2 separate regions of the Homo sapiens genome follow, and region 1 is linked to region 2. Evidence: fine-mapped expression QTL. A gene starts in region 2. The other region holds a variant in brackets. All regions are shown on one strand. Distances are from middle to middle. Region 1 holds the start of LOC124905350 (a long non-coding RNA gene). Region 2 holds the start of NEU4 (neuraminidase 4).

The links.
Region 1: its variant is fine-mapped to the expression of NEU4 in monocytes (Schmiedel 2018, PIP 0.95).

Annotation. Positions count from the first base shown.
Region 1 is chr2:241,833,235-241,849,350 of GRCh38, forward strand. It overlaps LOC124905350 (a long non-coding RNA gene), which reads left to right and starts at 10,933. Exons shown (of 2, transcript XR_007088410.1): 1 at 10,933-11,244; 2 at 11,331-13,246. RefSeq lists enhancers at 978-1,478, 9,455-10,152 and silencers at 8,692-8,851, 9,783-10,077. The variant C/T (reference allele first, on the strand shown) is at 12,842.
Region 2 is chr2:241,802,380-241,815,267 of GRCh38, forward strand. NEU4 (neuraminidase 4) reads left to right here and starts at 6,814. Exons shown (of 4, transcript NM_001167600.3): 1 at 6,814-6,895; 2 at 12,103-12,306; 3 at 12,513-12,768. The coding sequence starts at 12,106. It overlaps LOC124905349 (a long non-coding RNA gene), which reads right to left and starts at 8,317. Exons shown (of 2, transcript XR_007088398.1): 1 at 8,088-8,317; 2 at 5,936-6,989. GAL3ST2 (galactose-3-O-sulfotransferase 2) reads left to right here. Exons shown (of 4, transcript NM_022134.3): 4 at 966-1,908. The coding sequence ends at 1,787.

The DNA of each region.
Region 1 (16,116 bases), 32 kb after region 2:
ATTAAATAACACTACTGCATACCGACTGGAATGGCCCAAATCCAAAACACTGACAACACCAAGCGCTGGTGGAGACGTGGACGTTTCATTCATTTATTGCTGGTGGGAAAATGGTACTTTGGAAAAAAATTTGGCAGTTTCTTACAAAACTAAACATACTTTTATCATACGATCTAGAAATTGTGTCTCTTGGTATTTATCCAAAGGAGTTGGAGACTTATGTACCCATAAAAGCTTGCGTAGGATGAATTTATAGCAGCTTTATTCATAATGGCCAAAACGTGGAGGGAACCAAGATGTCCTTTCGTAAGTGAGTGGATAAATAGCCCGTGGTCCATCCAGACAATGGAAGATGACTCAGCACTAAATGAAATGAGCCATCGAGCCCTTCAAAAGCACGGAGGAAACTTAACTCATATTAGTAAGTGAGAGGAGCTGTGGACTTAAAAATCGCACTTTATAAATTTAGAGTTTTATTTCTTAAGAAGGAGATGACAACCTACAGGTGGAAGCCGAAGCTCCAGCTGAAAACCAAAAGTAAGCACTTTGAAAGAGGGGAGGGTGGAACGGAATTTATGCTGAATGAGCCGGACACATATGCATATTCAGCAGGTTATAGAAACATCTTATGAATAGTTATGAGAGAGTCCTACACTGCATACAATAAACGGGCATGTTATATACCACCCACGTTCACCTTGGGGTGGAGACTGCACATCTAACTGCGTTACAATCAGGCCCTGCACGTCAGAAGGTGGAGCCGGGACGGGAAGCACTCGGTGCGCAGCCTCTGTAAACCAGAACCAGTCCGGGGCTGGGGGTCCCTGCTCAGGGGACAGTTACTGAAATGCGGCTGTTGTCCGATGGCAGCTGTGGTTCTGGCTGGGGGAGCAGGGGTCAGCGAGGCAGTGTCTGGCAGGGGGTGAGCTGCACCTGCTTTAACGTTGTTCGTCTCAAGGCCAGCGTTTGGGTGTCAGAGAAAAAGAAAACTCCCGTGGCAGGTAGAACATAAATAAGTGCAGCGTGTGTGACTTCGCCCCTGCCTGGGGTGGCCTCAGGTCCCGTTGATAATGTGGCGTCTTATGGCCACAGTCGGTTCTGCCAGGCGATGTTCTCTATCTCAACACTCATGCTGGGCAGTTGCTGCGTCTAACCACACAGGGGAGGGGTGTCATGGGACGCATCTGATCTCCTGTCCCCTCAGGGCTGAGAACTCCATTTTTCAGGTTTCTCTGGGGTCCCCTTGACCAAGGGGTGAGGAGCCCGTCGGTTCAGTCAGTTGGGTGGCTTAGAATTTTATTTTTCGTCTCCATTTCCCGCTTTTGGCTGAGATTTGCCATAGGCAGCATCCACGGCCAAACCTTTATCTTGGCCCACCTTGTTGCTGGGGGAGGTGGGGCTACCTGCCCTGGTCCCTCCAGCCCTTCAGTGGAACCCTGATTGCCAAGGGGCTTACAGCTAAAAGACTTACAGCCAACTCAACGTTCTGGGCCAGGCGGAATTGGAGGTAATATAAGAGCTGAAAACCAAAAGCCAAAAGGCGAAGTGACAAAACTGGCTTATCTATAAGTTCCAAGTGTTGAGCTATCATAATTTTGGTCTCAGTCTCTGACTTGTAGCAATTAGCTACACGAAACGTAAGCATTTTGTTAAAACCATTTCAGCTAAGGAATTTAGAGACTTTGATATGCTGCTGTGCTTTTTGTGGTCTTTTTAGTAATTTGTCCTAAGGCGGCCAATACCGTTTTAATTGTATCTCTATTTGTATAAATCCCATAACTGGGAACAGCTGTATTCTGGAGGCTGTGTCACTAGGTGTCATTACATCCTCTTGGTAATTAAGTCTATGGGAAGCAGGAAATTCTTTAGAGGGTTAGAGTTGGAGGGATGGAGAGGGAACCACCTAATGGCCCAGGAGGCACAGTCCCTTGATTTGTCAGCAGTGCAGGCATCTATGCACTGTCCTTGATTTGGAGGGTCTGAGCTAGTTTTTTTTTTTTTTTTTTTTTTTTTTTTTTTTTTTTTTGAGATGGAGTCTCACTCTGTCACCCAGGCTGGAGTGCAGTGGCATGATCTCGGCTCACTGCAACCTCTGCCTCCCGGGTTCAAGCCATTCTCCTGCGTCAGCCTCCAGAGTAGCTGGGATTACAAGCGCGTGCCACCATGTGAAGCTAGTTTTTGTATTTTTAGTAGAGACGGGTTTCACCATGTCGGCCAGGCTGGTCTCGAACTCCTGACCTTGGATGATCCGCCTGCCTTGGCCTCCCAAAGTGGTGGGATTACAGGCATGAGCCACCGCACCCAGCCTGAACTAGTTTTATCCTTTGAAGCCAGCCCTTACCATCTCACGCCCCCTTCTCTTCCTCAGCAGTCCCTGGGCCTAGACAGAGGGTGCTTGATATGGTATAGCTTCAGCAACAGCTCCAGGAGACTTTGAATGAGAGAGATTTGAGAGATAAATGGCATTAATAATTTGAGTGGTAGAATTATAACGTACAGGCATAATGTGTCTGGAGTTGGTTCCTTTGGTGGTTTCGTGGTCTCGCTGACTTCAAGAATGAAGCCACGGACTTTTGCAGTGAGTGTTACAGCTCTCAAAGATGGCACACATCCAAAGGGTGAGCAGTAGCAAGGTTTATTGTGAAGAGCAAGAGAACAAAGCTTCCACACCATGGAAGGGGACCTGAGCAGGTTGTTGCTGCTGGCTGGGGTGGCCAGCTTTTATTCCCTATTTGTCCCCTCCCATGTTCCATTTTTGTCCCATCAGAGTGCCCTTTTTTCAATCCTCCCTGTGATTGGCTACTTTTAGGATCCTGCTGATTGGTGCATTTTACAGAGTGCAGATTGGTGTATTTTACAGAGCGCTGATTGGTGCATTTTACAATCCTCTTGCTAGCTACAGAGCGCTGATTGGTGCATTTTTACAGAGCGCTGATTGATGTGTTTTACGATCCCCTTGCTAGCTACAGAGCTCTGACTGGTGCGTTTTACAATCCTAGCTACAGAGCTCTGATTGGTGCGTTTTACAATCCTCTTGTAAGACAGAAAATTTCTGCAAGTCCCCACGCCACCCAGGAAGTCCAGCTGGCTTTGCCTCTCAACAAGAATTTATGCGCCCCTAACAGGAAGAAAGGAATCAACCCCATTAGGGAGCCAACTAAAACGATCATGAAGAAAATTACAACCTGGATCCTCTTTAGAGATGTGTAGCCAAGAGATAATTCAAGACTCAGTTTGAATTATAGGCAAAAAATAAAACTCAAGAACAGTGGTCGGGGCTGGAATTGCAGAACAAGTGTTTTCTTTTGAAACGTAATTTTTTTCATCTCTTTAGTTCCCCCTTTCTACCACAGAGAAATAATAATAAGACCAATTTGTGTACAAAATAAGTTTTAGTCTTATTCTATTTGGCTTGATCATTTGTGTAAATTGCAGCAGGAATAGCAGCTGGCCGTGTAGGCTCTTTTTAAATTGGCTTTGCTGGAACTTTATCGGAAAGTGTTATTTCAGTCAAAGGTCTTGTTAAAATAATATCCCCAAAGTGTCCTGTTACAAAAGAAAATGTATTCTTATTGAACTTATGCAAACCACCATATTGCTGTAAGTAAGAATGCTCATGAATAGTTTTTGAATTCTGGAGGTAGAAGGTAGAGAGAGAAAGCTGAACTTTGTTATTTTACTCAGTTTCTGTCACCTATAAATAGGTTAAAAGAAAAAAGGTTTTCTTGACTTTGGAAAACAAAACAAAGAATCAGTAACACTTTAAATACAAAGGCAATAAGCGCTGTTCAGTTCTGATAAGAACAGGAAAAGGAAGCTCACAGGTAGCTAAACATCTAAAGTATATAGTACTAAGACATAGAGCAAATTATATTAATTCAGATAGAGGGAAAACTATGAAATGTCTTAACGTCTTGGAGTATAAACCCAGCCCTGTGTCTCATGAAAGCCGTTCACTTCGATGGTTGTCTTCCCCCGGATCTGAAGACAAGGCTTTGGTTAGCTTGAGTTTGGTTTCAGATACCAGTGTGGAATGTTCAAGATTCAGCAGGAGTTGGTGCCTTTTTTAGGTGATGTGATACGGTTTGGCTGTGTGTCCCCACCCAAATCTCATCTCGAATTGTAATCCCCATGTGTTGAGGGAGGGACCTGGTGGGAGCTGATTGGGTCATGGGAGCTTGTTTCCCCCACGCTGTTCTCGTGATACTGAGTGAATTCTCTCGAGATCTGATGGTTCGATAAGGGGCTCTTCCCCCTTTGCTCTTTCTCTCTCCCCTGCCATGATGAACAGGATGAACGCAAAATTAAATTAAGACGTACCTTGCTTCCCCTTCACCTTCCACCATGATTCTAAGTTTCCTGAGGCTTCCCCAGCCATGGGGAACTGTGAGTTAATGAACCCTCTTTTGTTGATAAATTACCCCGTCTCAGGTAGTGTCTTTACAGCGTGTGAAATCAAACTCATACAGGCTCTCGGGGCATTTGTAGCTGCAATGCTCCCTGCCTGGGATGCCTTTCCTTTGCATCTTCCTCTGGCTGTCACCTCTTTTGTTTATAAATTACCCAGTCTCGGGCAGTTCTCTATAGCAGTGTGAAAACAGACTCATACTCTATGTGTGCCCAGGAGTCAACTCCCTGTAACTTGGTAGCACATGGATTTGTTAATAGTACCTTTTAAGGACCCTTCCAAAGTGCAGGGGAAAGAGTCCTGTAACTGATGTTTCTTCCAGTGTATGTAATCAGCAGGCTGGAGGTGGTGATTTTGGAGTTCATGACACAACTGGAAGCTGCAAAAAGATTTTACAGGCCAGGTGTGGAGGCTCACTCCTATAATCCCAGCACTTTGGGTTCACTTGAACCCAGGAGTTCGAGGCTGCGGTGAGCTATGACTGTGCCACTGCACTCCAGCCTGGGCAACAGAGTGAGACTCTGTCTCAAAAAAATATGTATAATCTCGTAATGATTCATTTTTATAGCTTTGATGATCCTGCCTGCAATAAGTCTAAGTGAGATGCTTAATGTAGGATTTGATTTTGAGGACTTTTGTGAAAGATGTTAAAAGGCTCAAAACATTTGATCAAAATAGAATCCTAGGTCATTGTAAAATAATAGTTACTCATGTAACCATTGCCATCTTCAATGGCAAGGCAGAAAGTTACATGGATGTAAAAACAAGCTCAGTTTTCATAAGCAATCAAAAAACCAAATAAAAATGACACTGGAAATTATCTTGATAAAATGCAAAATCTTCGTTTTTTGAGGCCAGTTACTCAAAAGGCAAAGAAACACCTTCTGCAGTCATTGTTTCTCCTCTGGAAGCCCATTGAGCTAACCTGCAAGTCAAACCTGATGAAAAAGGATATTTGAATTTAGTCAGGTGCAGGAAGAGTGTGTCTAGGGTCATGAGTGTACCTGATGTTATGGAGGAAAGGAAACAAGAAAACCAGCACCTTGAGCAGGGCAATGCATGACTCTTAGTAACAGCATGAGAAGTTTCCTGGCTATACTGAACAATGTATAACAAGAAAAGCCAAGAGTACAGAATCAAGTTATATGAAGGAAAACATTGCTTTTCTAGACCTTTAAGATCAACATTTCAGCATCAGGCCACAGCAGTAGTTACAATTGGAAAAGAAAGTTACAGGAGCTGATGAAAAAAAAGGCTGAAAGGGAAGGTTATCATCCCAACCAAGCAAAAAGATACACCTTGGCAAGGGCACAAGAACAGAAGGCAAGGATCAACACAGAATTAAACATCAATTTTTTTTTTTTTTGAGATGGAGTCTTGCTTTGTTACCAGGCTGGAGTGCAGTGGCACAATCTCGGCTCATTGCAACCTCCGCCTCCCAGGTTCAAGCGATTCTCCTGCCTCAGCCTCCTGAGCAGCTGGGATCACAGGTGTCCACCACCACGCCTGGCTAATTTTTGTATTTTTAGTAGAGACAGGGTTTCACCATGTTGGTCGGGCTGGTCTCGAACTTCTGACTTCAGGTGACCCACTTGCCTCGGCCTCGCAAAATGTTGAGATTACAGGTGTGAGCCACCGCGCCCACCTAAACATCAAATTTTATTAATAGCAAATTATTATTTTAACAAAACTTTTCTCTAACCGAAAACTTTTGGTTTTATATTAATTAGTGTACTTTTTTTTTTTTTTGAGATGGAGTCTCAGCCTGTTGCCCAGGCTGGAGTACAATGGCACCATCTCAACTCACTGCAACCTCTGCCTCCCGGGTTCAAACGATTCTTCTGCCTCAGCCTCCCGAGTAGCTGGGATTACAGGTTCCCGCCACCACATTCAGCTAATTTTTGTATTTTCAGTATAGACAGGGTTTCACCATGTTGGCCAGGTTGGTCTCAAACTCCTGACCTTATGATCCGCCCGCCTAGGCCTCCTGAGTGCTGGGATTACAGGCGTGAGCCACTGCACCTGGACCAATTAGTGTACTTTTAATATCAAAGTTCAATCTTTAGAAAGACTGCTATAAGCAATTTCCTTTTAGTAATAGCCAGCTTAAACATATACAAAATTCCTTTCATACTTAAAAAAAAATTTTTTTTTGAGACAGGGTCTTTCTCTGTGTCCCAGGCTGGAGTGCAGTGGTGCCATCTCAGCTCACTGCAGCCTCTGCCTCCCGGGTTCACGCCATTCTCCTGCCTCAGACTCCCGAGTAGCTGGGATTAAAAGCATGCACAACCACACCAGGCTAATTTTTGTAATTTAGTAGAGATAGAGTTTCACCACGTTGCCCAGGCTGGTCTTGAACTCCTGGGCTCAAGTAATCTGCCTACCTTGGCCTCTCAAAGTGCTAGGATTACAGGTGTACGTTTTTTTTATGAACCTTATCACAACTTATACAGACTGTTTACAACATGCTGCGACTTAATGGTTTGTCCTGTGCTCTCTCTTTCTTAAATAACCAGTCATTTTACTTTAGGACAAAAATTTAGCACACAAGATTCCTTTTCATAGAAAAGTTACAGAAATCAGTCTCTTGTCCAATCAAAGTGGTCATTAGGGCTGGTGGCCGAGGGGAGCGAGTCATGAGCCAGCGTCTGGCGGCAGGTGAGATGCAGCTGTGTGAATGTGGCTTCCCTAGAGGCTGGTGCTTGTTTAGCTGCTAGAGAAAAAGAAAACCTCAGCAGGGCACGGTGGTTCATGCCTGTAATCCCAGCACTTTGGGAGGCCGAGGCTGGCAGAATACGAGGTCAGATCAAGACCAGCCTGACCAACATGGTGAAACCCTGTCTACTAAAAATACAAAAATTAGCCGGGTGTGGTGGTGCATGCCTGTAATCCCAGCTACTCAGGAGGCTGAGGCAGGAGAATGGCATGAATCTGGGAGGCGGAGGATGCAGTGAGCCGGGATGGCCCCACTGCACTCCAGCCTGGGCAACGGAGTGAGACTCCACCTCAGAAAAAAAAAAAAAAAGAAAACCTCATGGCAGGCAGGACATAAGTCAGTGCAGCGTGTGTGACTTCACCCTGCCTGGTGCAGCCTCAGGTCCTGTTGATAATTTGGCATCTTACTGCTGTATTCAGCCCTGCCAATTTTTTTTTTTTTTTTGAGACAGAGTCTCACTCTGTCTCCCAGGCTGGAGTGCAGTGGTGCGATCTCGGCTCACTGAAACCTCCGCCTCCCAGGTTCAAGCGATTCTCCTGCCTCAGCCTCCCGAGTAGCTGGGATTATAGGCGCCCGCCACCACGGCCAGCTAATTTTTTTATTTTTAGTAAAGATGGGGTTTCATCACGTTGGCCAGGCTGGTCTTGAACTCCTGACCTCAAGTGATCCACCCACCTCATCCTCCCAAAGTGCTGGGATTACAGGCGTGAACCACCACGCCTGGCCCAATCCTGCCAATCTTATGGTCTCTATTTCAACATTCACTCTGGGCATTTGTGTCTAAACCACAAAAGGGAGGGGCTCTAACGAGCTGTATATGTCCTCCTGTCCCGTCCTAGCTGGGAACTCAGGTGTTAAGGTTTCTCTGGGGTCTCCTTGGCTAACAGGCGTCCTTTTAGTTGACTGGGAGCTTAGAATTTTATTTTTAGTTCTCAAAGCTAATCTGAAAAGGCCGCATGCTGTATGATTCCAACTATACAACATTCCGGGAGAGGCAATCTACCCAGACAGTAAGAATCCTCAGTGGTTGCCAGGGAAGGGAGGGGTGAATAGTGGAGCTCGGGGGAATTTCGGGGCAGGGAAGCCTCTCCTGACACCATCATGGTGGATACCTGACCTCATGCACTTGCCAGGACTCCCGGAACGCAAGACGCCAAGACTGGCCCCCAATTCGAGCTGTGGACCCTGCGTGATGGGGCCAGGTCAGTGCAGATTCGTCGCACAGCAAGGACCCAGCACCAAGGCAAAGGCGCTAACAATAGGGGTGCAGAGTGTGTGTGAGGGGCGAGGCGAGGGGCACATGGGGGCTCCGTCTACTTTCCACTCAGCTTTTCCATAAACCCCAAACTGCTTTAGATAGTAGAGCCTATTAATTTTTAAAAAAGTGTAGCTATAAAAATTCCAAGAAAAGAGAAGGAAGAAAGTGGATGACAATCAGTATAATCTTGAGGGCATCCACGTGGCCAATGGACTTGTGAAAACGTGATCGGCTGCAGGCCCGCCTTGGCTGAGGGACCCCCTGCCGCACCGGCCATTCCCCCCACAAGCCCAGACTTCCTGGAAGAGCTGGGGTCCTGCGTGCCACCTGCTCCGCCTCCTTCGGCCTGCAATGGTTCATTCTGTGTCAGCTTGGCCAGGCCGCAGGACTCTGATGTTGGTCAAACAGCAGTCCAGAAGTTTCAGTGAAGGTATTTTTCGAAGATAAAATTACCGCTGAGATCAGTAGACTTTGAATCAGCAGGTCAGCCTCCGCGACACAGGAGTCTCATCCAGTCTATGAAGGCCGGAGAGAAAGGAGAGAAAGGAGGATGGAATCCTGCCTGCAGGCATCTTTGGATTTGAGTGGCTACTTCGGCTCCTCCTGCGTCCCCAGCCTGCCTGCCTGCCGTAGTCATGTGAGCCAATTTCTCCAAGTAAGTTTCTCTCTCTCTGTCTCCACATTCTATTGGTTCTTTTTTTTTTTTTCTTTTTTTGAGACGGAGTTTTGTTCTTGTTGTTTAGGCTGGAGTGCAATGGCGCGATCTCGGCTCACTGCAACTTCCATCTCCTGGGTTCAAGCAATTCTCCTGCCTCAACCTCCCAAGTACCTGAGATTACAGGCATGCGCCACCACCCACGGCTAATTTTGTATTTTTAGTATAGATGGGGTTTCTCCATGTTGGTCAGGCTGGTCTCGAACTCCTGACCTCAAGTGATCTGCTTGTCCTGACCTCCCAAAGTGCTGGGATTACAGGCATGAGCCACCACTCCCGGCCTATTGGTTCTATTTCTCTAGAGAACTCTCACTACTACAGCTACACCTCCCTGGGCCTCAGTTTCCCCTTCTGTCCATCAGCGAGGCCGAAGGCTGCCATGGGCTGAGGTCTCACACCCGGCGCTCCTGCCCCTGCCCCTGATTCCGGGGCAGCCTGCATAGGCCAGGCAGTGGTCGAGGCCCACTTTCCCCGCCCAGCAACTGTGGTTCAGCGGTTCAGCGGCTGACCTCCCAGCCCAGAAACAGAAACTCTTTTTCTCTTGCAAAACAGAAAGTGTCCCCATTAAACACTCACTTCCCGCTGGCTCCCCCGACCCCGGGCCCCACCGTCTGCTTTTTCTGCCTATGAACCGGCCCACTCTGGGGACCTCGTGTGTGGGGAGTCACACAGTGTTTGTCCTTTTGTGGCTTGTGCCCCTCGGTGTGACGTCCTCGAGGTTCCTCCACGCTGCGGCGGGTGTGGGAGCCCTTCCTTCCTGAGGTGACTCCCTCTGTGCGGAATCACCGTGCTGTCCGTTCCTTCCTCCGGCGGTGGACACGGAGCTGCTGCTTCCACATGGCCGCTGATTGTGAATTGCGCTGCTGGGAATGGGGTGCACTGACTTCCATCTTTTTAAGGCTGAATACTCCTCCATGTATGTAATAACTTGGTTTTGCAGGTTGAATTGAGATAAAAACTGAAGACCCCAAACCAATCTTGGATTCTGTGGCTAAGCAGTTGGGGACGACGGTGCCCCCGTGCCCGGGGCAGGCATCCTGCGCTCTCACAGCCCTGGCCAGTGGCACCGGCAGTGCCCCTCCGGCCACACCCCGGCCAGGTTTTCTAAGGCTGGACAAACACAGGGGCCCCCACTGGTGGGTGCGGCAGACTGACTGGGGTCAGAGGTATGGGGAGAACACGCGGAGATCCACCCAAGAAGGGGAGCGATTGTGCCACAGTCGAGGGGGCCACGGCGATGGTGTGGTCACACGGCCTCGGTCACCCTCCAGAGGACCCTCCACATCCTGAACTCTCCAGAATCTCAGGAGCCTCACCCAGACTCAGAGCGAGGTTTGTCCACACTGGAGCCCTGACGCACGAGGGTAGAGACCACCAGGACTCACACCGCAGCCCCCCATGCGGCCCCACCAGCCCCCAGGGCCTTGGCGCTGCACCCAGATCGCCAGCCCGGTCTCCTGTAGCCCGAGGGTGGGTTCCCTTTCAGAGGCCCCCCGCTCACCTTCGCTCCTGCTGGGAGCCCTGGGCGGACTCCCCCCCACCCCGCCCAATTCCAAGGACCCCGGGCTCCATCCACGAGGCCCACAGGACCCGCGGTCCCCCGTGCAGAGTAAGGCGTCCAACGCCCACGCACTCCGCAGACCCGGCCGGTGGGTGTGGGCGGGGCTGGGGTGGGGCGCAGGGGTGGGGGCGGCGCTGCAGGGTCGGGGGCGCGGGGGCGCGGGGGCGCGGGGGCGCGGGCGTGGGTGGAGCTGGCCGGGCTCAGGGGCCTGGGACACGGGGCGGGGCCGCGCCTCTCTCGCTCCGGGTCCCACGCGCCCCGGCCTCCTCCCGGCACTGTCCCCCGGGGAGCCCCGAGGCCCGGCCACACCCAGGGCGCTCCTGAAGCCGCCGCAGCTGCTGTGCGAGGCCGGGCCGACCCGCCTGGGGCGCGTGGGTGGGGCGGGAGCGCAGCCGCAGCCCGGCGGCGACACAGGCCCGGGGCCAGCCGGGGACGGAAAAAGTGAGTGCGCGGCGGCGCGGGGCGGCCTGACGGGAAGGCGGGAGGCGAAGTGCTGACTGCGCCGCGGTCTCTCAGCCGCCAACACACCGCGGACGCCCGGGGACAGCGACCGCTTCCTCCCTCCCCGCCCGCCTTGTCTCTTTTTGTGAGTATCGATCTGAGCTCATGTTCTTTTTAACGTACTCAAAGTGTGTCAATCAATTAGGCTTTTTTTTTTTTTTTTTTTGACAGGGTCTTGCTCTGTCGCCCAGGCTGGAGTCAGTGGCACCATCGTGGCTCACTGCGGCCTCCACCTCCGGGACTCCAGGGATCCTCCCGCCTCAGCCTCCCGAGGAGCTGGGACCACCGCACCTGGCTAATTTTAAAATTTTTCCTTAGAGACAGGATCTCACTTTGCTGCCCAGGCTGGTCTCAAACTCCTGGGCTCAAGCGACCCTCCCGCCTCGGCCTCCCAAAGTGCCACCGTGCCAAGCCTCAGTTAGGTTTTTAATTTTAATTTGGCATTGTTTGATGCTCAGACTGCTGCCGTGTCATTTTCACACGACAGCAAGTTGGGGACAGCGAGTTGTTCTGTCCTGCGCGTGTGTCCCCTCATGGTCTTGAGTGACCTGACCCTCTGTGGGGAGCCCTGAGCCTCCTCCCTGCTCCCGCGGCCCCAGCTCTCAGCTGATGGAGGCTCCGGGGCGGGCTCAAGCCCCCGGCCGGCTTTGGACGGCTTTGCCGTTGCCGAGCCAGCGCCGTGAGCTCGTGGGCTCTGCGTCTGCACATGTTTGCCGGTGACCTCTGGGAAGTGTTTCGACGAGGATGGGGGTTGAGGGGGCAAAGGGCAAGTGCCCACCGCCTACCAGACAGCACCGGTGCGTCTCCAGCTCGGCTTCCCCGCCAGCCCCTCAGGCCTGCTCCCTGCTGCCTCGCCAACAGCCGCACCGTTGTCAGAGCTCTGTCAGCCTGGTGGATGTAGTTTCAACTTGTATTTTTGTTGAGAGAACCTGAACAACCTTTCATTGTTTAAGGGATATGGGTATGCACGCAGGCACTGCCGTATATACATATATTGTAGATACACACGTCCGCACACCTGTACACACACACCCACACACATACCCCTGTGTATGTACATACACACATTTGTATGCACACATATGTCTACACACGTGTAGACACGTGCACACACAGGCTCACGCACACACATTTTCTCTGAGCTGTTGGGTTATGTCTCCTGCACTTTCTCGTGTATTTTTGACCTTGCTTTTTCCAGACTCTTAGATCTTCCTACGACTGGCATATTCGCTCTTTTGTGGTGGTGCAAACATTTTCCCTCAGTTTGTTTATGATTTTTTTTGCCAAGCTAAAGTTTTTTGTTTTCCAATATATGGAGTTCAGTGTATCAGTCTTCTCTTTAATTGTTGCCTGATGTCCTTTATTCATTGGGAATGCCTTCCCCTCCCACACTGCAAGAATGCACCCACGGTTTCTTGTTTCTTGTAGGGTTCCTTTTTTTTTCTTTTTTGAGACGGAGTCTTGCTGTGTCGCCCAGGCTGGAGTGCAGTGGCATGATCTCGGCTCACTGCAAGCTCCGCCTCCCGGGTTCACGCCATTCTCCTGCCTCAGCCTCCCGAGTAGCTGGGACCACAGGTGCCCGCCACCATGCCCGGCTAATTTTTTGTGTTTTTAGTAGAGACAGGGTTTCACCGTGTTAGCCAGGATGGTCTCAATCTCCTGACCTTGTGATCCACCCGCCT[C/T]GACCTCCCAAAGTGCTGGGATCACAGGCGTGAGCCACCACGCGCGGCCAGGGTTCTTTTTGTATGCTTTTCTCTCTGCTGCATTTGGGATTTTGTGCATATGAGTCTAACTTAATACTTTTCCAGATGGCTATCCCTATCCCTGGGCAGTTGGTTAAAAAGTCGTTTTTCCCCTCACTGATTTGGGTCGCAGGGACTGGGCCTGTTCCTGTGTCTTCTGGTGCTTATCCCACCCTGTTTTCATTACAGTAAGTTTCCCCTGAGCTCATAAAGCTGGTCCTCTTTCACTTTCTTTTCATGGTTTTTTTGGCTGTTACTTGCTTGTTAATTTTTCCATATGAGCATGGTAGTTCCAGAACTGTGGTTTTTACTGGGATCGTATTAAATTTACAAATTGTATCGGAAGAACGTGCATGTTTGCAGCTGTGGCGCCTCTTCGGGGCCCGGGGGTCAGGGTGCCTTTGATTGAGTTCAGCCTCTGCGGCAGCTTTCCCACGTTTCTGGCTAGGTTTATGCCGGGAGCATCTTCTCTCTTGCTGTCCTAGATGAAACATCGCCCGCCACTCCGTCTCCTAGCGCACTGTGCTGTGAATGGGGTGAATGGGTGTATGAGAGCCGTGAATTTTGGACGCTGGCGCGCTGCGCTGTGAATGGGTGTTTGAGAGCCTTGAGTTCTGGATGCTAGCGCGCTGCGCTGTCAATGGATGAATGAGAGCCGTGAGTTCTGGATGCTGGCGCGCTGCGCTGTGAATGGGTGTTTGAGAGCCTTGAGTTCTGGATGCTGGCGCGCTGCGCTGTCAGTGGATGAATGAGAGACGTGAGTTCTGGATGCTAGCGCCCTGCGCTGTCAATGGATGAATGAGAGCCGTGAGTTCTGGATGCTGGCGCGCTGCGCTGTGAATGGGTGTTTGAGAGCCTTGAGTTCTGGATGCTGGCGCGCTGCGCTGTCAATGGATGAATGAGAGCCTTGAGTTCTGGATGCTGGCGCGCTGCGCTGTCAGTGGATGAATGAGAGACGTGAGTTCTGGATGCTGGCGCGCTGCGCTGTGAATGGGTGTATGAGAGCCTTGAGTTCTGGATGCTGGCGCGCTGCGCTGTGAATGGGTGTTTGAGAGCCTTGAGTTCTGGATGCTGGCGCGCTGCGCTGACAATGGATGAATGAGAGCCTTGAGTTCTGGATGCTGGCGCGCCGCGCTGTCAGTGGATGAATGAGAGACGTGAGTTCTGGACGCTGGTGCGCAGCGCTGTCAATGGATGAATGAAAGCCTTGAGTTCTGGATGCTGGCGCGCTGCGCTGTGAATGGGTGTTTGAGAGCCTTGAGTTCTGGATGCTGGCGTGCTGCGCTGTCAGTGGATGAATGAGAGACGTGAGTTCTGGACGCTGGCGCGCTGCGCTGTCAATGGATGAATGAGAGCCTTGAGTTCTGGATGCTGGCGCGCTGCGCTGTGAATGGGTGTTTGAGAGCCTTGAGTTCTGGATGCTGGCGTGCTGCGCTGTCAGTGGATGAATGAGAGACGTGAGTTCTGGACGCTGGCGCGCTGCGCTGTCAATGGATGAATGAAAGCCTTGAGTTCTGGATGCTGGCGCGCTGCGCTGTGAATGGGTGTATGAGAGCCTTGAGTTCTGGATGCTGGTGCGCTGCGCTGTCAATGGATGAATGAGAGCCGTGAGTTCTGGATGCTGGCGCGCTGCGCTGTGAATGGGTGTTTGAGAGCCTTGAGTTCTGGATGCTGGCGCGCTGCGCTGTCAGTGGATGAATGAGAGACGTGAGTTCTGGATGCTAGCGCGCTGCGCTGTCAATGGATGAATGAGAGCCGTGAGTTCTGGATGCTGGCGCGCTGCGCTGTGAATGGGTGTTTGAGAGCCTTGAGTTCTGGATGCTGGCGCGCTGCGCTGTCAATGGATGAATGAGAGCCTTGAGTTCTGGATGCTGGCGCGCTGCGCTGTCAGTGGATGAATGAGAGACGTGAGTTCTGGATGCTGGCGCGCTGCGCTGTGAATGGGTGTATGAGAGCCTTGAGTTCTGGATGCTGGCGCGCTGCGCTGTGAATGGGTGTTTGAGAGCCTTGAGTTCTGGATGCTGGCGCGCTGCGCTGACAATGGATGAATGAGAGCCTTGAGTTCTGGATGCTGGCGCGCTGCGCTGTGAATGGGTGTTTGAGAGCCTTGAGTTCTGGATGCTGGCGCGCTGCGCTGTGAATGGGTGTTTGAGAGCCTTGAGTTCTGGATGCTGGCGCGCTGCGCTGTCAATGGATGAATGAAAGCCTTGAGTTCTGGATGCTGGCGCGCTGCGCTGTGAATGGGTGTTTGAGAGCCTTGAGTTCTGGATGCTGGCGCGCCGCGCTGTCAGTGGATGAATGAGAGACGTGAGTTCTGGACGCTGGCGCGCTGCGCTGTCAATGGATGAATGAGAGCCTTGAGTTCTGGATGCTGGCGCGCTGCGCTGTGAATGGGTGTTTGAGAGCCTTGAGTTCTGGATGCTGGCGCGCTGCGCTGTCAGTGGATGAATGAGAGACGTGAGTTCTGGATGCTGGCGCGCTGCGCTGTCAATGGATGAATGAAAGCCTTGAGTTCTGGATGCTGGCGCGCTGCGCTGTGAATGGGTGTATGAGAGCCTTGAGTTCTGGATGCTGGTGCGCTGCGCTGTCAATGGATGAATGAGAGCCGTGAGTTCTGGATGCTGGCGCGCTGTGCTGTGAATGGGTGTTTGAGAGCCTTGAGTTCTGGATGCTGGCGCGCTGCGCTGTCAGTGGATGAATGAGAGCCGTGAGTTCTGGATGCTGGCGCGCTGCGCTGTGAATGGGTGTTTGAGAGCCTTGAGTTCTGGATGCTGGCGCGCTGCGCTGTCAATGGATGAATGAGAGCCGTGAATTCTGGACGCTGGCGCGCTGCGCTGTGAGTGGGTGTTTGAGAGCTGTGAGTTCTGGACGCTGATCTCACAGGCAGCACTCTATGGCTTTCTCATTGCCTGTGGTCATTTTCCATGGGACCTATCGGGTTTTGCGGATGGAAACCCACATCATGTGCAGAGCCCCCGGGCAGCGTTCCCTGCCAGGCCTGATCTGCCGGATCTCACCGGGAGTTCCCAGAGCTGCGAGGTCTCTGTGCCTGTCCCTGACACAGGCATGGGGTCCAGGACTGGGCTCCAGGATGGCAAGCAGAGAATGAGCCCCGGGGTGTCAGTGGGTGTTTGGCTGCGGTGCCCGAGGGCCTGGCAGGGCTCCTTTCCCTGCACCGTCCCTGCTGCTAGCTGCCAAGGACCGCAGCAGGGTGA
Region 2 (12,888 bases):
GGGTCCCTTGGGTCTCAGCATAGAGCCGGCTTCCCCCCAGGGCTTCCCTGACCTTCCTTACAAAGGAAGCAGGGCAGGGAGTGTGGGTGGGAGGGCTGTGGGCAGGCACAGGTGTTTTAGGGTCACCCTGAGCGCTCTGTGGAGAATGGCCAGCAGAGGCTAGGTGACCAGGCGGGGCCAGAGGGAGGCCGGGTGGGGAGAGGTGATGGGCAGAGAGCGGGGCAGCGGGGGTGTGCTGTGGGGTGGGGGCTGCGGGGCAGAGGGAGGAGGAGGGGCCGGGAGGAGGGGAAAGGAAGAGGGTGGGGGCAGGGAGGAGGCCTCCCACTGTTCTCTCCCTGGGTTTCTGAGGATGGAGAAGCAGGCGGTGTAGTTGGGCGTGACTTTCTGCAAGACTTTACTTTCTGTGGGTGGGGTATATCCTCCAGGACCTCTGAGGGGGCACAAGCGAGGGTGAGTCCAGACCCACCCTGTGGGGAACCTGGGTCACGGACCTTCTCTGGGCCTCAGTTTCTTTGTCTGTTAGGTGGGTGTCACCCTGGCCTGTGGGCAGCTGGTGGAGTGCTGAAGCCCCCTGTGCCAGGGGCCCGTGGAGGGCCCTTCGTGCTGTCTGTGCGCCACAGCATCCCACTCCTAGAGGCCTCTGGGTCTCCTCGAGATGCCAGTGGGAGCTCCTCCTCCCTCCTCCTGCTCTGCCCACGGACTCCTCCTCCTGAGGCCCCTTCCTGGCGTCCTTGGCCTCTGTTCTGGGCACCCGGGAACCAGTGACTGGGCTGCAGGGCCTGCGTGTGGCCCTGGCTCTGCTCCCGGAGCTGCCGCACGAGAAGGCGCCAGGCCCAGGTTCCTCGGCAGATGTGAGGATGGGGGTGCTCCTTGAGCGGGTGTGGCCAGGGCGCGCCTCCTCCCCGCGGGTGGGCCACCCTGGCCTGGGCCCGCGGTCCGCAGCCCGCCTCTCTGTCGCCACACAGGTGCAGAAAGTCATGCCCAACGACACCTTCTACTTCTCCATCCTGAGGAACCCCGTGTTCCAGCTGGAGTCCTCCTTCATCTACTACAAAACCTACGCCCCCGCCTTCCGGGGCGCCCCGAGCCTGGACGCGTTCCTGGCCTCGCCGCGGACGTTCTACAACGACAGCCGCCACCTCAGGAACGTCTACGCCAAGAACAACATGTGGTTCGACTTCGGCTTCGACCCCAACGCGCAGTGCGAGGAGGGCTACGTGCGCGCGCGCATCGCCGAGGTGGAGCGGCGCTTCCGGCTGGTGCTCATCGCCGAGCACCTGGACGAGTCCCTGGTGCTGCTGCGGCGCCGGCTGCGCTGGGCGCTGGACGACGTGGTGGCCTTCAGGCTCAACTCCCGCAGCGCGCGCTCCGTGGCCCGCCTGTCGCCCGAGACCCGGGAGCGCGCGCGGAGCTGGTGCGCGCTGGACTGGCGCCTGTACGAGCATTTCAACCGCACCCTCTGGGCGCAGCTGCGCGCCGAGCTGGGGCCGCGGCGGCTGCGCGGGGAGGTGGAGCGGCTGCGCGCCCGGAGGCGCGAACTCGCGAGCCTGTGCCTGCAGGACGGCGGCGCGCTCAAGAACCACACGCAGATCAGAGACCCGCGCCTGCGCCCCTACCAGTCCGGCAAGGCCGACATCCTGGGTTACAACCTCCGGCCGGGCCTGGACAACCAGACGCTGGGCGTGTGCCAGAGGCTTGTGATGCCTGAGCTCCAGTACATGGCCCGCCTGTACGCCCTGCAGTTCCCGGAGAAGCCCCTCAAGAACATCCCGTTCCTGGGGGCGTAGAGGGGCCGGGCCGGGGACGAGGCCTCCTGCGGACACCAGCTCCTCTCTCCGCCGTCACCGGGGAGGCCGGGGATCCTTGCAGGGCTTCTGGGGCGTTGGGAAACCCAGGCCCGCCGGCCACGGCTCTAAAATGAAGAGGGCGGAGACCCCAGTGAAGAGCACCCCCCGCAATCCGCGCAGATCCCTCCCAGAGAAGGCCCTGAGCCCAGGCGGCAGCCACCCGCCCCCCTTCCGAGGCTGTGTCTCTGTTTAGAACTGAACACGAGGGTGGGGAGTGGGGGATGCTGGACCACAGGGCAGCACCTGCCCGGCAGGATGCGCGTGCCTGTGAGCCCCGGGACTCCCCAGGGTCCTGGGCACTGGGGCTGTGGATCCTCGGAGGAACTCAGAGTGGTTCCCCTGAATTTCCCGGCCCTGGCGACGAGGTGCTGGTCCCAGAGACAGGTGCAGGCACAGGCAGTGCCACAAAGACCGGCCCGGGAGCGGGGCAGGGGCCAGGGCTCAGCCGCTCCCGAACAGCTCCACAGCTTTCGCTGCAGGAGGTTTGGTTCTGATGGAAGGATGTTTTCTACAGAGAGATGGCACAACTGCTCACAAGACCAGGGTTCTAGCCGGAGCCCAGGTCGAGCTCAGCTCCACGACCCCTGCTGGTCAGCCCCTGATGCCTCGTGAAGGAGAGGAGTCTCACTTGCCAAAGGAGGCTGGAGTGGTTGGGGGTACACACACCCTTGGTTGCCTTGGAGACCGTGTTGGGTGTGGTGCCAGAGGGCAGCTGTGGGTACCCCTCTTTGTCATTCACAGGGAGGGACAGAGCCTCCCTGCCTGGCAGGACGTGATCCCTGGCTGCCAGGGGCTCAGCGGGTAAAGGGGGTGCACTCGCCGGGACCAGCCGATGCCTGGGGCACCCAGGAAACGCAGCTACTCTGCAGCATGCTCAGCCTGGAGGAGTTGCAGGAAGAGTGAATTTTCAGTGAGAGTCGGCCGTGAAGAATGGCAGGAGCTCTGCTGAGTCAGAGTCAGCCAGGGACGTCTGCAGGCCACCTTCCCTCCCCCTCAACCCAGGGACCTCCGCAGGCCACCCTCCCTCCCCCCTCAGCCCAGGGACCTCCGCAGGCCACCTTCCCTCCCCCCTCAGCCCAGGGACCTCCGCAGGCCACCTTCCCTCCCCCCTCAGCCCAGGAACCTCCGCAGGCCACCTTCCCTCCCCCCTCAGCCCAGGGACCTCCGCAGGCCACCTTCCCTCCCCCCTCAGCCCAGGGACCTCCGCAGGCCACCCTCCCTCCCCCCTCAGCCCAGGGACCTCCGCAGGCCACCCTCCCTCCCCCCTCAGCCCAGGGACCTCCGCAGGCCACCCTCCCTCCCCCCTCAGCCCAGGGACCTCCGCAGGCCACCCTCCCCCCTCAGCCCAGGAACCTCCGCAGGCCACCCTCCCTCCCCCCTCAGCCCAGGAACCTCCGCAGGCCACCCTCCCTCCCCCCTCAGCCCAGGGACCTCCGCAGGCCACCCTCCCCCCTCAGCCCAGGAACCTCCGCAGGCCACCCTCCCTCCCCCCTCAGCCCAGGAACCTCCGCAGGCCACCTTCCCTCCCCCCTCAGCCCAGGGACCTCCGCAGGCCACCCTCCCCCCTCAGCCCAGGAACCTCCGCAGGCCACCCTCCCTCCCCCCTCAGCCCAGGAACCTCCGCAGGCCACCCTCCCTCCCCCCTCAGCCCAGGAACCTCCGCAGGCCACCCTCCCTCCCCCCTCAGCCCAGGAACCTCCGCAGACCACCTTCCCTCCCCCCTCAGCCCAGGGACCTCCTCCCTCCCCCCTCAGCCCAAGGGACCTAGGCAGGCCACCCTCCCCCCTCAGCCCAGGAACCTCCGCAGGCCACCTTCCCTCCCCCCTCAGCCCAGGGACCTCCGCAGGCCACCTTCCCTCCCCCCTCAGCCCAGGGACCTCCGCAGGCCACCCTCCCTCCCCCCTCAGCCCAGGGACCTCCGCAGGCCACCCTCCCCCCTCAGCCCAGGGACCTCCGCAGGCCACCCTCCCCCCTCAGCCCAGGAACCTCCGCAGGCCACCCTCCCCCCTCAGCCCAGGAACCTCCGCAGGCCACCTTCCCTCCCCCCTCAGCCCAGGGACCTCCGCAGGCCACCTTCCCTCCCCCCTCAGCCCAGGGAACCTCCGCAGGCCACCTTCCCTCCCCCCTCAGCCCAGGGACCTCCGCAGGCCACCCTCCCTCCCCCCTCAGCCCAGGGACCTCTGCAGGCCACCCTCCCTCCCCCTCAGCCCAGGGACCTCCGCAGGCCACCCTCCCTCCCCCCTCAGCCCAGGGACCTCTGCAGGCCACCCTCCCTCCCCCCTCAGCCCAGGGACCTCCGCAGGCCACCCTCCCCCCTCAGCCCAGGAACCTCCGCAGGCCACCTTCCCTCCCCCCTCAGCCCAGGGACCTCCGCAGGCCACCTTCCCTCCCCCCTCAGCCCAGGGACCTCCGCAGGCCACCCTCCCCCCTCAGCCCAGGAACCTCCGCAGGCCACCCTCCCTCCCCCCTCAGCCCAGGAACCTCCGCAGGCCACCTTCCCTCCCCCCTCAGCCCAGGGACCTCCGCAGGCCACCCTCCCCCCTCAGCCCAGGAACCTCCGCAGGCCACCCTCCCTCCCCCCTCAGCCCAGGGACCTCCGCAGGCCACCTTCCCTCCCCCCTCAGCCCAGGGACCTCCGCAGGCCACCTTCCCTCCCCCCTCAGCCCAGGGACCTCCGCAGGCCACCTTCCCTCCCCCCTCAGCCCAGGAACCTCCGCAGGCCACCTTCCCTCCCCCCTCAGCCCAGGGACCTCCGCAGGCCACCCTCCCCCCTCAGCCCAGGAACCTCCGCAGGCCACCCTCCCCCCTCAGCCCAGGAACCTCCGCAGGCCACCCTCCCTCCCCCCTCAGCCCAGGAACCTCCGCAGGCCACCCTCCCTCCCCCCTCAGCCCAGGAACCTCCGCAGGCCACCTTCCCTCCCCCCTCAGCCCAGGGACCTCCGCAGGCCACCTTCCCTCCCCCCTCAGCCCAGGAACCTCCGCAGGCCACCCTCCCTCCCCCCTCAGCCCAGGAACCTCCGCAGGCCACCTTCCCTCCCCCCTCAGCCCAGGAACCTCCGCAGGCCACCTTCCCTCCCGCCTCAGCCCAGGGACCTCCGCAGGCCACCTTCCCTCCCCCCTCAGCCCAGGAACCTCCGCAGGCCAGCTTCCCTCCCCCCTCACGCCAGGGACCCGGGAAGAGCACCTTCCCTCCCCCCTCAGCCCAGGGACCTCCGCAGGCCACCCTCCCTCCCCCCTCAGCCCAGGGACCTCCGCAGGCCACCTTCCCTCCCCCTCAACCCAGGGACCTCCGCAGGCCACCCTCCCTCCCCCCTCAGCCCAGGGACCTCCGCAGGCCACCTTCCCTCCCCCCTCAGCCCAGGGACCTCTGCAGGCCACCTTCCCTCCCTCCCCCCTCAGCCCAGGGACCTCTGCAGGCCACCCTCCCTCCCTCCCCCCTCAGCCCAGGGACCTCCGCAGGCCACCCTCCCTCCCCCCTCAGCCCAGGGACCTCTGCAGGCCACCTTCCCTCCCCCCTCAGCCCAGGGACCTCTGCAGGCCACCTTCCCTCCCCCCTCAGCCCAGGGACCTCCGCAGGCCACCCTCCCTCCCCCCTCAGCCCAGGGACCTCCGCAGGCCACCCTCCCTCCCCCCTCAGCCCAGGGACCTCTGCAGGCCACCTTCCCTCCCTCCCCCCTCAGCCCAGGGACCTCTGCAGGCCACCCTCCCTCCCTCCCCCCTCAGCCCAGGGACCTCCGCAGGCCACCCTCCCTCCCCCCTCAGCCCAGGGACCTCTGCAGGCCACCTTCCCTCCCCCCTCAGCCCAGGGACCTCTGCAGGCCACTCTCCCCTCTTAGCCCAGGGACCTCGGCAGGCCACCCTCCCTCCCTCCCTCCCTCCCCCCTCAGCCCAGGAAAGGCACAGGAGAGGATCCTGCCAGGTAAAGGGAAAGTGGCCCGGGAGGAGCCCACGTGCCAACAACAGGAGTCCCAGAAGACAGAAAAGACCACAGATGAGAAAGCAGTTCACGCAGAGAACAAAACGTTCCCGGACCAAACCCAGGGTCGGGTTGCTCATTCCCGAGGCCCGATAGCGAGATGCAGATGAACTGGGGAAGAAGAGGGATTTTATTTCTGTAACTGGTTACAGGGAGAAGGCCTGGAAATGATCGCCAGACCAACTCCAGATTACAGTTTTTCCAGAGCTTACACACCTTCTAAGCTCTGTGTCTCCGTGTCAGTGTGCATTCGTCTAAAGACGTACGTGATTCAATTCTTCTCATCTCTAACTGAGGTCTGGTCCTGAAGATCTTCCTCTGAAGACTCAGTAAATTTACTTGATCTAAATGGGCCCAGGTGTTTACCCTTATCTTGTCTTCTGCTAAATCATGGAGGTTTGGGGAGTTCCTTCTCCACTTGTTTGTGGAGGCCTGGGGAGTTTTTTCAGACCCCCAGTAAAACTTGTTTAATCCTAAACGGGTCCTGGTCTCGTCATGCTTCAAGGCCCAAGAAAGCCCTGGGCAAAACTCTTGATGGGCTTTTGTTACGTCCCAGCCCTCGTGTGAGGGCGCTGGCTCTCAGCTTTCAGGATTTCACTTCACCCTCAGTCAGTGCTGAACAGTTGTCGCGGAGGCCTGCGTGAGTGAGGCCTGGCGTGCCCTGGAAACATTCCCCTGAGTTGAAGAAAGACTCACAGTTTTCAGCATCCAGTTACCCTCTGAGCATCAGGCAGAACCCGCCGGCCCCAAAACCAGGCCCCCTTGGCACATGTGGGCCCGAGTGAGTCCAGCATGAGGAGGTGCCGCTTCTGAGCAGAGCTCAGGTTGTCTCTGGGAGGAGGAGCGAGCGTTGGGTGCGGTGGCCGCTGCGTTGGCAGCCCTGTCCCTGAGCGGAACGCAGGTCGTCTCTGGGAGGAGGAGCGAGGGTTGGACGCAGTGGCCGCTGCGGTGGCAGCCCTGTCCCCAGGCGTGGACTCTGCCCTCAGCTTCACAGTCACCGAAGAAATGAAGTTACAGGAGGGGCACACCGTCCTTTTGTCTCTGCCTTTGAGGTTGGCGGGAACTGAAACTGGTACGGTCTTTTTGAATAGAAATTTGGGGTCTTTCTGGCGACGTAAAACTGTGTGTAGTTTGCAGTAGAGAGTGTTGAGAACAGCCTGTCCGGGCTGTGCATTGAGAAGGGGCGGTTAAAATGCTGCCACGTCGTGCAGCCCATAAAAGGGGGACACAGAGTAGCCGAAACTGCTCTTGGGGGAGGGGGCACGTCCCAGCCTTCCGTGTGATGCTGGGGTCAGCGTGGCCCCTCGGCTGCCAGAGCTCACGAAGACGGTTAAGGAAAGCTTCCCCCGGGTGGCTTTCACCCCACGGGGACAGAGCCCCAGATGGGCCCAGGGACCTCTGAGCAGCCGTGGGCCATGGGGTGACAGTTGGGGGTTGGTGGGACCCGTGGCTGTCATATACCCTGGGTAGACGGTGGCTTGTCCAGGCAGAGATGCCCAGGGGAAGTGGGTGGCACCTGAGGGCAGATCTGACTTTTCAAGAGAAGCTGAAAACACGGGTTTTTCTGTGAAATCTCTAGATTGAAAACAGTGGGCTTGAAAAGCCTGGAGCAGAGGGAGTGAGGCCTGCCCCCCACCCCAGCTCTGCGGGCACACCCTGGCCAGACAGCCCTGCTCCAGACCCGGCCTGTGTCTCAGGGTGGCCCAGGAGGGGACTTTGCAAGGTGACGTGGGGCTTGGAGGTCCCGTTTCCCTGTAAGCCTGGGTACTTAGGGGATGGCCCTGGTCAGACTCCACCAGTCCCAGACTTGGGGGACACGAGAAGGGAGATGGGCCACCCAGTTCTGGTTGGGCTGGGGTGGGGCTTCTGAGGGGTGGGGAGGTTGTCCCTTCCCACCCACCTGCCCCTGCCCCAGGATTCTCGGCTGTGAGCAGGAGGATGTGTACGATGGCCAAGTTGCCTGGACTGGGTCCGCCCCTCCTGGGGCTGTGAGTGCACAGGACACTGGGCCCACAGGCACCTCTGGGGCTCTGTCCCCGTGGGGTGAAAGCCACTTGGGGGAAGCTTTCCTTAACCGTCTTCACGAGCTCTGGCGGCCGAGGGGCCACGGGGGGCATTCAGATGAGTCAGAAGGAGCTGGGGCCCACCCCTCCTGCTTCCTCGCCGCCCCCCTCCCAGCTGCCCCCAGTAAATCCCCTCAGGCCCCTAGGACCTGGAGGGACGCGGCAGGTTTATCATCTCAGCCTGGAAACCACGTGACCTACCTGTTTCCCACCACAGCGCCCCAGGTTTCAGAAGCAGCTGAGGATGCCCTTCGCAGGGGAGGGAGGGACAGTGAGAAAGGAGGGTGTTCAGGGCCCAGGGATCCCCCACGGAGGCTGCCCCATCAGAACATACCGGGCACCTGTGGCCTCCTCTGAGATTCTGGCCTGGGCAGTGGTCATTTGAGCATTGGTTACCAAGGCTGCCTCTGAAATGGCAGGCTGGGGGCAGGCCAGCGTGAAAGGGACTGGCAGGAGTCCTGCGGGGACAGGCTGGGGGCAGGCCAGCGTGAAAGGGACTGGCAGGAGTCCTGCGGGGACAGGCTGGGGGCAGGCCAGCGTGAATGGGACTGGCAGGAGTCCTGCGGGGACAGGCTGGGGGCAGGCCAGCGTGAATGGGACTGGCAGGAGTCCTGCACGGCAGCTGTGCTGGGGAGGGGTCACCCTGGGCCCTGAGAGGCACAGGACATTGCGATGGGGTGCTGGCCTGCCAGGAGCACAGATACAGAGCTAGAGCCCAGTGAGGCCTGTGCTGTGAGGGGCTGTGCTGTGCCAGGGGAGGCCCCGCACCCGGGAAGCCCAGAGGAGAGTGTGCACTCACGGAGCCCTCCTGGCAGGGCCGCGTCTCTGGAGCAGCAGACCCGTGTCCCTCTGGGAGGTCAACTGCGGCCTCACAGCTGGGCCTGTCCCAGCACAGCCCTTGTTGGAGGGCGCACCCCCGTGTCCTCAGCACCCCAGTGTTGAGTGCCTTGACCTGCAGAGGGGAGCCTGTGCTGGTCCCGGGCGTCTGTGTGGCTCCTGGGTGCCCATCTGCACCCCTGGCCCTGCTCTGGGCTTCAGTGGAGCCGTGCCACCGTGGGAGTGTCCAGGGTCCTGACGTAGCCCTGAGACGTGGCCAGCTCCCTGGCCTGCTGCCCGCACAGTGGGCCCTTGTCTCTGCTCTGGGTCAGGCGAGGCAGCCACCCATGATGAGCTCTGCAGCCTTCCCAAGGTGGCTGGTGAGTCCCTGCCCTTTGCACCCCCAGCACCCTCACCCCTCTACCCGGGCGCCCGGGGTCAGGACCCGCTCCTGAGGTATCTGTCCAGCTGGCCGCCCCCTCTGTCTGGGGGTGCTGGACGAGTCCCACTCCTTGCCAACCCCAGGGTGGCTCCTCAGCTCTCAAACAAGGGGCGGGCTGCAGGGATTCCGAGGGCCCCTCCAGCAAGAGGTCCCACATGCATCTCCCAATGGGACACTTACCTGGCCCACAGGGTGGGTGTGACACTGAGGGTTCCTGGGGGCAGATTCAGGGCATGGGATGGAGACAGACTGGTTGTGAGGGGCCCAATGCAGGGGGCCGGCCCCAGCCCACAGGGTCGTTCTGCAGATGGGCTGGTCGGGGACGCTCTACCAGGTGAAGGGTCTGTGGTCGGAGTCTTCGCCCTGGCCAGGGCCCAGGACGCTCACGGTGCAGGCTGAGGGTCAGAGCCGCCGAGGGCCCCCTGCCGGGATTCTGTGCAAAGGGCCTCTGCACTTTATGTGGGTGCATGTGAATGCCCCTCGCCAAGATGTTCCTACCCTGCACCTGACACTTCCCACGACAAGAAGTGCTGACCCCAGAGGGTGTGCGCGGACCCCAGAGGGTGTGCGTGGACCCCAGAGGGTGTGTGCGGACCCCAGAGGGTGTGCGTGGAGGGCCTGGTCTGACCTCAAGGCTCTTGGGGCACCCACACAGGATGGGCTGTGAGGGGTTGGCGGGGGTGGGGGGGGTGGTCTGTGATGGCCCCCTGCTGAGCCAGAGTGACCCCTACAACCGGTCCAGGGGTCCACGGACCAGAAGGCCAGGTTCTCCTGGAGGTCCCATCTCCCCTGGGCCTCGGTTTCCCCTTCTGTGACTCCACACCCCCAAGGAGGGCCCTGTCAGGGAGGGCGGGGGGCACTGGTTAATGTCCAGGACATGGCTGTCCCAGTCAAGCCAAACCCCTGGAATGTGCTGAACTGGCTACACTGAGCGGGGCTGGCCTCCGAGACAGAGGGGCCTGCCGAGGACACGGAGGCTCTGTGGAACCCAGGGAACTGGTCACACTGAGGACACGGAGGCTCTGTGGAACCCAGGGCCTGGCCACACTGAGCACGGCTGGTCCCCCAAGACAGAGGGACCTCCTGAGGACACAGAGTCTCTGTGGAACCCAGGGCCTGGCCACATGGAGGACACGGAGGCTCTGTGGAACCCAGGGCCTGGCCGTGGCAAGGAAGCCCCAAGCCAAGTGTGTGTCAGCCTTGTCCTCTCTGTGGGCCTCAGTTTCCCCTCTGTGCAACAAGGGGAGTGACCAGCTGGTTTCTGGAGTCTCCTCCTCTCCCTCTCTGTCCCCAGGGGTGGGCCTGGGCCTCATGTCTGCAGGGGGTGCTGACACCTGCTCCTGTGGTCCGGGCCTTGGGGAGGGAGCCAAGTGCAGAGAGAATGTCTTGCTTGTGCCTGCTCAGCCCAGAGGGACACATGGCGTCTGCACCTGCTTCCCGCTTGGGCACAATTGCCCTTTGAGAGCAGAGCCAGGGGCTTCTTGGGGACGGAAGCTGCTCTCAGAAGCCGCGCACTGGTGGTGGGGGAGCGGCAGGAAGGGGCCGGCCAGCTGTCCTAGCCAAGAGCCTTTCAGGAACCGGTGGCCCAGGGCAGAGGTGGCTGGAGGTGGAGCTGTCTGTTTGGGCCTCAGGTGTCGGGGCAAGGCCTGCTTGGGTTTTACACGAGTGTTGCGCCTTTACCCGGGTCTCTGTCAGTGGGTCCCGCCTGACCCGTGGGTGTGCATGGGTCCCCGTCGTAGGCAGGCGTTCTGCCCTGGCCAGGCGTGGTGTCCGGCATCCGGCCATCTCCCTCCTCCCTCCTTCCCTTAGCCCCGCATCCAGGTGCCCCGTGTGCCCGGCCTGGGCGGCTGGCCGTGGATCTGACCGCTCCTGCATGGTGGAGGACCAGCGTTCCCACTGTCTGCAGCTGTGCCACCTCCCTGTGCCGGGCTGTGCGTGCTCACGCTCGGCTCCGTCTGCCTTTGTGCGATCAGACTGAGAGACCCCCCAGGCAGGTCCCGCCTGCAACAAGCAGACCCCATGCGTGCCCCAAATGCCCCCTCACCCGGGCCCTGCCCTGGTGGGTGTTGCCTGGGAGCAAACTCCCAGAATGGCCGCCGGGCCCCACTCGGCTTTGGAGCTTCTGATTCCTGTGGGCGCTTCTCAGGTCAGGGCCCTGCAGGTGGGAAGCACCAGGCACTGGAATGAGGGCACTGTGGGGCCAGCTGCCTGCAGGCAGGGGTCTGATCACCAAGCACCTGTCCCCTGCAGGATCCCTGGCTGTGGCTCCCCCGATGACGTTCAGGAAGTGGGAGCCGATCCCCTGTCCCCAGAGAGCCCCGTGACTCCCCCGATGACGTTCAGGAAGTGGGAGCCGATCCCCTGTCCCCAGAGAGCCCCGTGACTCCCCCGATGACGTTCAGGAAGTGGGAGCCGATCCCCTGTCCCCAGAGAGCCCCGTGGCTCCCACAGGTCCCTGTGGGCTCACCTCTTTGTGTCTCTGCTGTGGCTTCCACGGTGCTGTGGCCTCTATTCTGGGGACACTGAGCTCCTCCTTGCTCGAGGTTTTGGGTCCTCATTGTCCACATGACCTCCTGCTGGGCGAATTCTGGGATGACCCTGTGTCCTGGGCACATGGCTGGCAGGGTCCCGGGGGCTCTCTGGCCAGCCTCCCCTGCACCCTGGCACCAACCAGCCTGGCCGAGGGTCAGCTCCCAGAGCCGTGTTGAGAGGGGAAGGGGCTGATTCCACAGACATTTGGGGTGGAGTGGGTGCGAGGGAGGGTGGGGGAGGGGCTGCTCCAGATCTGGGGTGAGGGAGTCAGAAACAGGGCTGACCCCAAGGTGGGTACAGGAAGAGGCCCAGGTGTGGGCAGGAGCTGTCTGCACCTCCTGAGCGCATTCCCCAGTCCAGACCGGGAGCGAGTGTGGGGCTCCCTGGGCCTGTCTTGCTGACCTGTGGCCCTGTACTGACCAGCAGAGCATGGGGGTCCCTCGTACCCCTTCACGGACAGTGCTCTTCGAGCGGGAGAGGACGGGCCTGACCTACCGCGTGCCCTCGCTGCTCCCCGTGCCCCCCGGGCCCACCCTGCTGGCCTTTGTGGAGCAGCGGCTCAGCCCTGACGACTCCCACGCCCACCGCCTGGTGCTGAGGAGGGGCACGCTGGCCGGGGGCTCCGTGCGGGTGAGTGAGTGGCCGGGGGCTCTGTGTGGGTGTAGTGGCCGGATCTGCTGGGGCTGCACACCCCGGGATGGGGCGGGGGTGGCGGCGGCAGGCAGATGCCCGAGGTAGAGATGAGCAAACCAGGCTCAGCGATCCTGGGTGCCCTGCGGGGGGCTGTGCCCAGGTCCCTGGACGTCCTGGTCAGCGGAACTTCCTCCTCTGGGCAGTGGGGTGCCCTGCACGTGCTGGGGACAGCAGCCCTGGCGGAGCACCGGTCCATGAACCCCTGCCCTGTGCACGATGCTGGCACGGGCACCGTCTTCCTCTTCTTCATCGCGGTGCTGGGCCACACGCCTGAGGCCGTGCAGATCGCCACGGGAAGGAACGCCGCGCGCCTCTGCTGTGTGGCCAGCCGTGACGCCGGCCTCTCGTGGGGCAGCGCCCGGGACCTCACCGAGGAGGCCATCGGTGGTGCCGTGCAGGGTAGGCGGGCAGGGTGCCGGTCTGGGTCCCTTTGATTGGCCACGGTCCACATGGAAGGGAGATTCCAGCGGGAAATTGCCATTCTGCCCCACCCCTGTCTCCAGCCACAAGGGAACCAAC